2 separate regions of the Homo sapiens genome follow, and region 2 is linked to region 1. Evidence: fine-mapped expression QTL. A gene starts in region 1. The other region holds a variant in brackets. All regions are shown on one strand. Distances are from middle to middle. Region 1 holds the start of NELFB (negative elongation factor complex member B). Region 2 has its middle 11 kb from the start of NRARP.

What was found.
Region 2: its variant is fine-mapped to the expression of NELFB in monocytes after LPS (Kim-Hellmuth 2017, PIP 0.95).

The regions. Positions count from the first base shown.
Region 1 is chr9:137,252,232-137,257,594 of GRCh38, reverse strand. It overlaps NELFB (negative elongation factor complex member B), which reads right to left and starts at 2,268. Exons shown (of 13, transcript NM_015456.5): 1 at 1,984-2,268; 2 at 1,525-1,688; 3 at 1,167-1,266; 4 at 541-771. The coding sequence starts at 2,229. STPG3 (sperm-tail PG-rich repeat containing 3) reads right to left here. Exons shown (of 6, transcript NM_001004353.4): 4 at 5,070-5,158; 5 at 4,630-4,933; 6 at 4,112-4,480. The coding sequence ends at 4,350. It overlaps STPG3-AS1 (STPG3 antisense RNA 1), which reads left to right and starts at 4,098. Exons shown (of 4, transcript NR_038389.1): 1 at 4,098-4,432; 2 at 4,620-4,720; 3 at 5,089-5,204. It also overlaps a transcript of CIMIP2A not described here. RefSeq lists enhancers at 965-1,912, 1,913-2,860 and silencers at 1,871-1,930, 1,971-2,150, 2,161-2,530, 2,721-2,900.
Region 2 is chr9:137,288,356-137,293,718 of GRCh38, reverse strand. No RefSeq gene overlaps it. Among named protein-coding and RNA genes, the nearest start is that of NRARP, 11 kb to the left of the region's middle. The variant A/G (reference allele first, on the strand shown) is at 2,158.

The DNA.
Region 1 (5,363 bases):
GGAGGCGGAGGTCGCAGTGAGCCGAGATCACGCCATTGCACTCCAGCCTGGGCAACAATAGCGAAACTCCGTCTCAAAAAAAAAAAAAAAGAAAAAGAAAAAAAATTAGCCAGGCATGGTGGCGGGCGCCTGTAGTCCCAGCTACTCGGGAGACTGAGGCAGGAGAATGGAGTGAACCCGGGAGCTTGCAGTGAGCCGAGATCACACCACTGCACTCCAGCCTGGGCAACAGAGCGAGACTCCGTCTCAAAGAAAAAGAAAAAAAGTAGGGGAGGGGGGATTAACTTCACATGAGCGGGCTTTCCGCAGATTTTAAATGTTGTCCATATATCACTTTAACGAAAAGTAAAATGCAAACAGAAAAACAACCAACTTTCTTTCCAGCATGTGTACAAGCCAGCCCTCCCCCACCACCCAGCCAAGAAGCAGAACCACCCGATCATTCACAGGGCAGCAGAGTGCTGATCCCCAGGCAGCTGAAGGCGCTAGCCGTGGCATCCCCAAGAGGTGCCCCACCCCGCACACGGCCTGTCCCCTCACCTCGCCCTGGCGCCTGGTCTTGGGGGAAGGACTGAAAAAGTTGTGCAGGACAGAGAGCTCTGTACTGAAGAGAGCGCTCTCCTTCTCCAGGATGTACTGCTTCAGGAGTGGGGAAACCTCGTCCCCGAAGAGGGCCTGGTTGTCTTGCCAGATCTGCCGCTTCACCTCCACGGCGCAGGCTCGATACAGCTCCTTGTCAGCCATAACCAGCTTCAGTTTTTTCTCCGGAACCTACATGACACCACAGGCTGCCTGTGAGTGGCACCTGTGTCCCTGGGTCTCCTTCAAGACAAGCCAAGAGGCCTCAGCCCCGCAGAGACCACCTCGAGCTAAGCTCCACCCCACAGGGCACCTATGACTGGTTCCCCGGCCCCAGCATGTCAGACAGACATGCTAAATACCAACAGCTCTTTCCCAGGAGGGGCCCCACACCCTAACTCCAGTGCTAAGGTTCGGTCTCCACGCGGCTCATGTGGGAGAAGTCAGCACAGAGCTCACCATGGACAGCACTTGGGCAGGCAGCACAGGAAGCTCCCGGAGCTAGGCGGCCACCGGAACTTCCACTAACCAAGGGCATGAGAGTGGGCGGACGGTCCACGCCATCAGGGTTAGGGTTAGGGCCCTACCTTGGGCAGGTGCTTCATGACGCACATCACCACGGGCTGCAGGGACGGCATCTTCACCAGAGAAAAGCTCTTCTCCAGAAGGTCTTCCAGCTTCTTGTACCTGGAACAACTCACAGGATTGATGGTGCAGCGATGCGCCAAATCGCAGCAGCTACCTGCCTGTCCCTACACAGATAACAGCTACCAGGACAAGCCTCCACGCCCAGGACACATGGGTCAAGGGGTCACTCAGACACAGGCCCAGGCCACCTCTGGGAGCAAGGATGTGGAGCCAAAAGGACAATAAATGCCCCTGAGTCGATCCAAGGCTGAGAGGCCGGCTGCACATCTCACCTGCCCACCCCTCCCGCTGACCCACCTTTCCTCAGCCTTCCCCTCCGAAGCGATGGCTGACACTCGCTCCAGCAGCTTGTCCCGCAGCTCATCGAATACCGACTGGTGGAACTCCAGCCGCGGCGTCCCGTGCAGGTCCAAGAAGGGGAGGGCTGACTGAAGAGATGGCAGCAGCACACCATTCTCTGTCTGAGGAAGCCAAGAGAAACCTCAAACGCAGCCCAGTGCGCCCGGGCACCCCGAGGTCCTGAGAGCACAGGGAGGCACGCACCCAGGTGTTCCCAGCCGTGCTGGCGGTAACCGCAGCCACCGAAAGCCACCCAGCCGTCCAGCAAAGGGGTGCTGGCTCCGGACTCCACCCCCAGAACAGGACTCAGCCACCAGCAGAAAGCCGGAAAACTTCCGGCGCCTCCGCCAGGCCCGACTCCCGAGCAGGCGGCCCGGCCCTCCAACTGGGCTCCCCCCGCCCCGGGGGCCGCCCCACCTGGAACTGCTCGATGGCCTTGAGCGGCTCCGTGCAGTTGGTCAGGGTCTCCTTCAGGTCCTCGCCGTTGGCCACGCCCAGGTCCTGCAGCCCCGCGAACATGGCCGAGGCCCCGGCCACCGCCCGGCTAGGCGCCCCATCCCCAGCCCGTTCCCCCGGCGCCGCCGCAGACACCCCAGAAGCCCGCTCCGCCGGGCCTCGGGGACCGCCCGAGCCCCGCTCCCCGGCGCCCTCCAGCTCGGCCAGGTCCCGCCCGCCGCGCGACTCCGCGCGCGTCCCGCAGCCGCCCACTTCCGCCCCGCACCGCCCAGGTCCGCCCGCCAACCGGCCCCCGGGAAACGCCGCCGGGGCCGCGCGCAGGTTCCTGGGAGCAGCGCCCTCACCCGGCGCGAGAGACCCCGCCCAGCCAGCCCAGCGCGCATGCGCCCACCCGGTCCCGCCCGCGCCCGGGCTTTCTGGCAGAAGAGGGCGGGTGAGGGCGTGGGGGGCGGACTCAGGGTCCGTCTGCTCCGGGAACGGACGTCGTCGCAGCCGAGTGAATTTCGTGTACATAAGCGTGGAAAACGCTCTTGCAGATCTCGCGGCAGCCACGCGCAGCGGGGACGTTTTGCCGGGGGTTGAGCTCCCCGCCCCTCTGCCCCGCAGGGGCCGGACACAGGCGCAGACTCCCTCCTGAGCGTGGGTTCCTCCGCGTGAAACGGGCACGAAGCCCACCCCGGCGCTGTCGCCAAAACTGAGATCTGAGCGCCTTCAGGGGGCCGGGGCCTGGCGGAGACCGGGCCCGCAGCGGGAGCGCGAGCGACGGCCGCCCTCCCAGGCACCGGGAGGCTGTGGCGCCCACCGAGCTCCGCGGAGCCGTGAAGGAGAGTCCAGGTTCCACAGTGTCCCTTCTTATCCCAGGCGGGTGGGCTCCCCGGGCCTCCCCGCCTCTCCAGCCCGCCGCCCTCCCGCAGGCTGTGCCGCGCCAAGCCCCCTACACACACCCTCTCTCTTTTCGGTCTCCGCTGCTGAAATTTTCTCTAGAAATTTCTTTCCCGCTGCCCAGCAAACTCTTGCTCTTCCTTGAAGGCTTCTTCCTCCACCACCTCCTCCAGGAAGCCCTCCCTCCTCAGCCCAGCTGGAGGAGATCGCTCCATCTTTCCTGCCGCTCCCACTCCTAGCTTTGGGTCTCACCAGGGGTGCCTGGTGGTGCAGCCGTGAGCAGAGCTCCTGTTCCCACAAGCCGGGCCGAGCTCCCAAGGCCATGGCTACCACAGCTCTCTTGCCGCTGGCCAAGTTGGTCAGCCCTAGGGCGAGGGTTCCAGTGCCTTGATCCAACCCCCAGCTGGTTCGGTGGCAGAGGAGGACAAGGGTCACAGCACACACACAATCCTGAGCCTGGGATTCCTCTCTGAGAAAGGGGGTGGTGCTGAGGCCACAGAAGCAGCTGCCCAGAGCCTTTTTGAAGGGGTTGAGCTCTGGGCCTGGTCTGGGTCCTGGGTCTGGGGAGGACCTGGGGAGGTGCGGGTGACGGCACCGCAGGTAAGGCTCCTGCAAGGTGGCAGCCTTGGGGCCCGACCCTGGGTAGGAGGGCAGGCCAGTGATGACAAGGGAGGCCCCAGCCAGGCGAAGTTGCAGGCAGGGGCAGTGCAGGGTCCCAGCAGGTGAAGGCCCCGGGAGTGGAGTCTGCAGGGCCCTGGGCCAGAGTGTTCAGGGCACAGGTGACTAAGCCCAGCCAGGTCTTCAGCTCAAGGCCTAGGGGAAGTGGGGCTGGGCCCTGGTGAGCAGATCCCTGGGCCCTTCCTGAGGTCTGGCCAGGCCGACCCCACCTGGAGGTGGCGGCTCAGGGCATTTGACGCCTCCTTCCCAGTTCCCTGGCTCGGCAAGCAGCTGACCCTCAGGTGGACAGCAGCTAGACCAGGCCCCTGAGTGACACGGCTGGGTGGGGGTGTCCCACAGAGCCCACCTCCCATCTCGCTCCAGGCTAGAGCTCAGGGTCAGTCACAGGCTGCCACCCTAGAGAAGAGAGCACCTTTCAGGGGCAGCTGAATGGAGACCCCTCAACAGGGAAAGCCGGAAATGACCCAGCGGCAGCCATATCTCTAGGACCGCCCCCGGGTGAAGGACAGACAACTGCACACCACAGAGCTCGGGAAAACCAACAGCATCTCAGTGTAGCGGGGAGATGGGCAGATGGGGGATCCAGGCTGGGCCAGCCTTGTCCACAGCCCATAGAAGGGTTGGCCAGCCAGAAGGGTGCATCGGGGTGCCCAGAGGGTCAGAAGGCCAGGCTGGGGCCCCAAGTCCCAGGGGAGGCCTGGGAAAGCCCCGGGGGAGGCCATGGTTCCACTCGGTGGCCGGGCCAAGCAGGTTGTGCCCAGCTGGCTCTAGAGCGTGCAGAAGGGGCCTGTGTCGTGGCGCTTGGGTCTGCGTACACCCTGGATGACCACGCCAGGCGCCGAAGGGAAGCGTGAGTTGCAGTCCTCCACGTGGTAGGCGGCTGGGCCAGGGGTTCGGGCTGCCGAAAGAGAAGGCTGGGAGCCCCACCCAGGTAGCAGCCCCAACTCAAACCTGGCTCCCAGTTCCCACCCCCGGCCCCTGAACCCTTGTCCTCACATTGCCCACCCATGCCCCATCCCTAGCCCTCTTCTCTCCAGGCCTCCTTACAGGTGCTGAGCCAGGAGGTGAACGCAGGGGAGCGGCTCATCGAGAAGGCCGGCGAGCGGGGGCTCTGCAGGCGGCTCCCAGGAAGGATATTGTAGGTGTTGGGGCCAGGGCATCTCTTGCCAGGTGCCTGCAAAGAGGCCTGAAGCAGGGACTGGGGCTGCACCCTGAGGCCCAGCCCCCTAGCCCCAGGCAGCCCTAGGTGGGTGTGGCCTTCAGGTGTCTTGGAAGCGGAGTGGCAGCCTCTGAAGCTGAAGGCGGGGAAGGCGGGCCGGCTGAGCAGCTGGTAGTGGGCTGGCGAGGGCCACTGCGAGGGGGTAGGAGACGGGCTGCAGGGCAGGGTGCTCCCCACGGACCCTCAGCCAGCCCCCCTTTGGCCCCACTGGAACCCCCAGCCCCCTGCCTGCGTGGACTCCCCGCCCCCTTCCTGCCCAGCCCCCAACCTTTTGCTCTTGGTCGAAGTCAGCTTTCTGCGTGAAGGGGCTTTCGCTCTGGAACCACAAAGTCTGCCATGCCCTGCGGCCACCGCCCTCTGTAGTTGGAGGATGGAGAGAGAGAAGGCTGGGAGCCCCACCCAGGTGACAGTCCCCACTCGAACCTGTCTCCCGGTTCCCACCCTCGGCCCCTGAACCCTTGTCTTCACAATGTCCACCCATGCCCCAGCCCTAGCCCTCCTCTCTCCAGGCCTCCTTACAGGTGCTGAGCCTAGAGGTGAACGCAGGGAAGGGTGGAGGGGC
Region 2 (5,363 bases), 36 kb before region 1:
TTGATGGCTGTTTACACCATGTAACCCACACCACAATCACAATTATATAAAGATATTATTAAAGCCAAGAAAGTTCTCCCGGCCCATCCCAGTCAATTCCTCCTGCCCCAGATCACCACCCATCCGACTTCTAGCACCGTGGATTCACGGCGCCTGTTCCAGAGCTTTCTCTAAAGGCATCACGTGGCACGCGCTTCTTTTGTCCTGCCCCTGAAACTCGTCGCCATGCTGTTGAGATTTGTCTGTGTGGTTCGTGTTTCCCTAACTTCTGCAAGGTGTAGCCTCTTTTTTTTTTTTTTTTTTTTTTTTCGGAACTCGTAAAATCTGGCTGGTGCGCCACAAACACAGGCTCATGTTCCCGGGTAGTTTTTCAGTTGGCACACTCATCCTCCTCCAGAAAGGAACTGCGTCACGAGGACACCCTCCTGGAATCCCAGAGCGTGGCACCGGCCAGCTCTTGTGTCCCCAACAGGGGCCCCGCCATGTTCCCTGGTAGTCCGTCTCCCCTCCCAGGCACTGAGCCCAGGGACTGGAAATCCAACCTCGGAGGGTTGCAGACCCGGCAGCTCCGGTGCAAGGCTCTTCCCACCGCAGACCAGGCCTGAGATCTGGGGCCTCTCCTTTGCCAGAGGAAGGAGGAATGAGCTGCCTACCAGGCACTTTGCTAGGACGAATATGTGAATGTCGAGCCTTGCAGGGCGCAAAGTCAATGCACAAAAGCCAATTGTGATTCTATATCCTGTCAACATTCAGAAAATACCACTAAAATAGCATACGGCAAAACATAAAATGCTTAACAAAAAAATTAATGAAAGTGTGTAATGAAAGATCTCTCCAATGAGAACTATAGAACATTGCCAGAAACTTTTTTTTTTTTTTTTTTTTTCAGATGGAGTCTCGCTCTGTCGCCCAGGCTGGAGTGCAGTGGCCTGATCTCGGCTCACTGGAACCTCCGCCTCGCGGGTTCAAGCGATTCTCCTGCCTCAGCCTCCTGAGTAGCTGGGACTGCAGTCGCCCGCCACCACGCCCGGCTAATTTTTTGTATTTTTTGTAGAGACGGGGTTTCATCGTGTTAGCCAGGATGGTCTCGATCTCCTGACCTTGTGATCCACCCTCCTCAGCCTCCCAAAGTGCTGGGATTACAGGTGTGAGCCCCTGCACCTGGCCGAGAAATTCTTTTTTAAATCTGAATCAAAAGAGATACGTATCATGTTCACTGCCTAGAAGACTTGATAGTGTTATAAGTGCTCCCCAAATTCATCTACAGATTCAATGCAATCACAGTCAAAATCCAGCAGGCTTTCCGTGGAAATTGGCTAGATGATTTTTAAAATTCATTTGGAAACACAAATGTCAAAAAAATAAACAAAATAATCTTGAAAAGAGGCCGGGTGCGGTGGCTGATGCCTGTAATCCCAGCACTTCGGGAGGCTGAGGCAGGTGAATCACCTGAGGTCAGGAGTTCAAGACCAGCCTGGCCAACATGGTGAAACCCCATCTCTACTAAAAACACAAAAATTAGCCGGGCGTGGTGGCGGGCACCTGTAATCCAGCTACTTGGGAGGCTGAGGCAGGAGAATTGCTTGAACCCTGGAGGCAGAGGTTGCAGTGAGCCAAGATCGCACCATTGCACTCCAGCCTGGGCGACAAGAGCAAAACTCCATCTCAAAATAATAATAATAATCTTGAAAATAAAGAACAGGCTGAGCATGGTGGATCACACCTGTAATCCCAGCACTTTGGGAGGCTGAGGCAGGTGGATCACTTGAGGTCAGGAGTCCAAGACCAGCCTGGCCAACATGGTGAAACCCAGTCTCTACTAAAAACAGAAAAATTAGGCCGGGCGCAGTGGCTCATGGCTGTAATATCCCAGCACTTAGGGAGGCCAAGGCGGGTGGATCACCTGAGGTTGGGAGTTCAAGACCAGCCTGACCAACATGGAGAAACCCTGTCTCTACTAAAAATACAAAATTAGCCGGGCATGGTGGCGCATGCCTGTAATCCCAGCTACTCAGGAGGCTGAGGCAGGAGAATCGCTTGAACCCAGGAGGCGGAGGTTGTGGTGAGCCAAAATCATGCCATTGTACTGCAGCCTGCGCAACAAGAGCAAAACTCTCTCAAAAAAAAAAAAAAAAAAAAAAAAAGGCCGGGCGCGTT[A/G]GCTCATGCCTGTAATCCCAGCGCACTTTGGGAGGCCAAGGCGGGAGGATCATCTGAGGTCAGGAGTTCAAGACCAGCCTGGCCAACTTGGTGAAACTCTGTCTTTACTAAAAATACAAAAACTAGCCAGATATGGTGGCAGGTGCCTGTAATCCCAGCTACTCGGGAGGCTGAGGCAGGAGAATCACTTGAACCCAGGAGGCAGAGGTTGCAGTGAGCTGAGATCATGCCACTGCACTCCAGCCTGGGCAACAGAGCCAGATGCCGTCTCAAAAAAAAGAAAAAAAAAGGTTTGGATCTTTGTGTGTGTGTGTGTTTGTATGTATATATGTTTAAATGTGTTTATGTATATGTACAGGTATTGTTATATGTTGTATGTAGCATGTTACCAAATTGGCCTATAAGTAAATGGATACTCATAAGTTAAGTCCAAATGTCTATCAGGTTCACATGAATTTTATAATCTTTGGTAAATAAAATGTTTTTTTATTTGTTTGTTTGTTTTTGAGACAGAGTCTTGCTCTGTCACCCAGGCTGGAGTGCAATGCTGCCGCCTTGGCTCACCGCAACCTCTGCCTCCTGGGTTCAAGCGATTCTCCTGCCTCAGCCTCCCAAGTAGCTGGGACTACAGGTGCGTGCCACCACACCTGGTTAATTTTTGTATTTTTGGTAGAGATAGGGTTTCACTATGTTGGCCAGGCTGATCTTGAACTCCTGATCTCATGATTTGCCCGCCTCAGCCTCCCAAAGTGCTGGGATTACAGGCGTGAGCCACCATGCCAGGCCAAAAATAGTTTTTAACTTATTGGTAAAATAAAACTAGAAATATCAGGCTGGGCACAGTGGCTCATGCCTGTAATCCCAGCACTTTAGGAGGCTGAGGCAGGTGAGTCACGAGGTCAAGAGTTCAAGATCAGTCTGGCCAACATGGTGAAATCCCGTCTCTACTAAAAATACAAAAATTAGCCAGGCGTGGTGGCAGGTGCCTGTAATCCCAGCTACTCCGGAGGCTGAGGCAGGAAAATCACTTGAAGCCAGGAGACAGAGGTTGCAGTGAGCCGAGATTGTGCCATTGCACTCCAGCCTGGGCGACAAAGCAAGACTCCATCTCAAATAAATAAATAAATAAATACATACATAAAAATAAATTCTACTTAAAGCCAGGTGTGGTGGCTCACGCCCGTAATCCCAGCACTTTGGGAGGAGGCAGGAGGATTGCTCGAGCCCAGCTGTTTGAGATCAGCGTGGCAACATAGTGAGACCTCGTCTCTAAAAAAATTTTTTAAACCTGGCCAGACGTGGCACACGCCTGTGGTCCCATCCACTTTGGAGGCTGAGGTGGTAGGATGGCTTGAGCCCAGGAGGTTTAGGCTGCAGTGAGCCATGATTGCACCCCTGCACTCCAGTCTGGGCAACAGAGAGAGACCCTGTCTCAAAAAATATATATGTGGGGACCGGTGCGGTGGCTCACGCCTGTAATCCCAGTACTGAGGGAGGCCAAGGTGGGTGGGTCACCTGAGGTCAGGCATTCAAGACCAGCCTGGCCAACATGGAGAAACACTCTCTACTAAAAATACAACAATTAGCTGGTATGGTGGCGCATGCCTGTAATCCCAGCTATTCGGGAGGCTGAGGCAGGAGAATCGCTTGAACCCAAGAGGCGGAGCTTGCAGTGAGCCGAGGTCACGCCACTGAACTCCAGCCTGGGTGACAGAGTGAGACCCTGAAAAAAAAATAAAAAAATAAAAATGAAACCCACTAACTAGGTTTTGTTAAAGATTTACAGGAGCAAGGGCCGGGCATGGTGGCTCACGCCTGTAATCCCAGCACTTTGGGAGGCCAAGGTGGGCACATCATGAGGTCAGGAGATCGAGACCATCCCGGCTAACATGGTGAAACCCTGACTCTACAAAAAATACAAAAAAAAAATTAGCCGGGCATGGTGGCAGGCGCCTGTAGTCCCAGCTACTTGGGAGGCTGAGGCAGGAAAATGGCGTGAACCTGGGAGGCGGAGGTTGCAGTGAGCCAAGATTGCACCACTGCACTCCAGCCTGGGCGACAGAGCGAGACTCCATCTCAAAAAAAAAAAAAAAGATTTACAGGAGCACTGTGACCTGACCAAGGACAGAGAAGTGGCCACAGCCTCCTCAGACCCTCGCTGGCACCCAGATGTGTGTGGTCCTCGGTCCCTCCCACCCTCGCTGGCACCCAGATGTGTGTGGTCCTCGGTCCCCTCCTGATCCCAAGCCCTGCACATAGTTTCTCCACATCCCCCATCCCATGAAAACCCTCCTGCCAGCATGGAAAATGTAAGATACTGGTTCAGGACACTAGGTCTCCAGGTCTCCATCTTCTCGGTTTGCTGGCTCTCCAATTTCTTTTTTTTTTCTTTTTTTTTTTTTTTAATTTATTTTTTTATTGATAATTCTTGGGTGTTTCTCACAGAGGGGGATTTGGCAGGGTCATGGGACAATAGTGGAGGGAAGGTCAGCAGATAAACAAGTGAACAAAGGTCTCTGGTTTTCCTAGGCAGAGGACTCTGCGGCCTTCCGCAGTGTTTGTGTCCCTGATTACTTGAGATTAGGGATGGGTGATGACTCTTAACGAGCATGCTGCCTTCAAGCATCTGTTTAACAAAGCACATCTTGCACCGCCCTTAATCCATTTAACCCTGAGTGGACACAGCACATGTTTCAGAGAGCACAGGGTTGGGGGTAAGGTCACAGATCAACAGGATCCCAAGGCAGAGGAATTTTTCTTAGTGCAGAACAAAATGAAAAGTCTCCCATGTCTACTTCTTTCTACACAGACACGGCAACCATCCGATTTCTCAATCTTTTCCCCACCTTTCCCGCCTTTCCATTCCACAAAGCCGCCATTGTCATCCTGGCCCGTTCTCAATGAGCTGTTAGGCACACCTCCCAGACGGGGTGGTGGCCGGGCAGAGGGGCTCCTCACTTCCCAGTAGGGGCGGCCGGGCAGAGGCGCCCCTCACCTCCCGGACGGGGCGGCTGGCCGGGCAGGGGGGCTGACCCCCCCCACCTCCCTCCCGGACGGGGCGGCTGGCCGGGCAGAGGGGCTCCTCACTTCCCAGTAGGGGCGGCCGGGCAGAGGCGCCCCTCACCTCCCGGACGGGGCGGCTGGCCGGGCGGGGGGCCGACCCCCCCACCTCCCTCCCGGACGGGGCGGCTGGCCGGGCAGAGGGG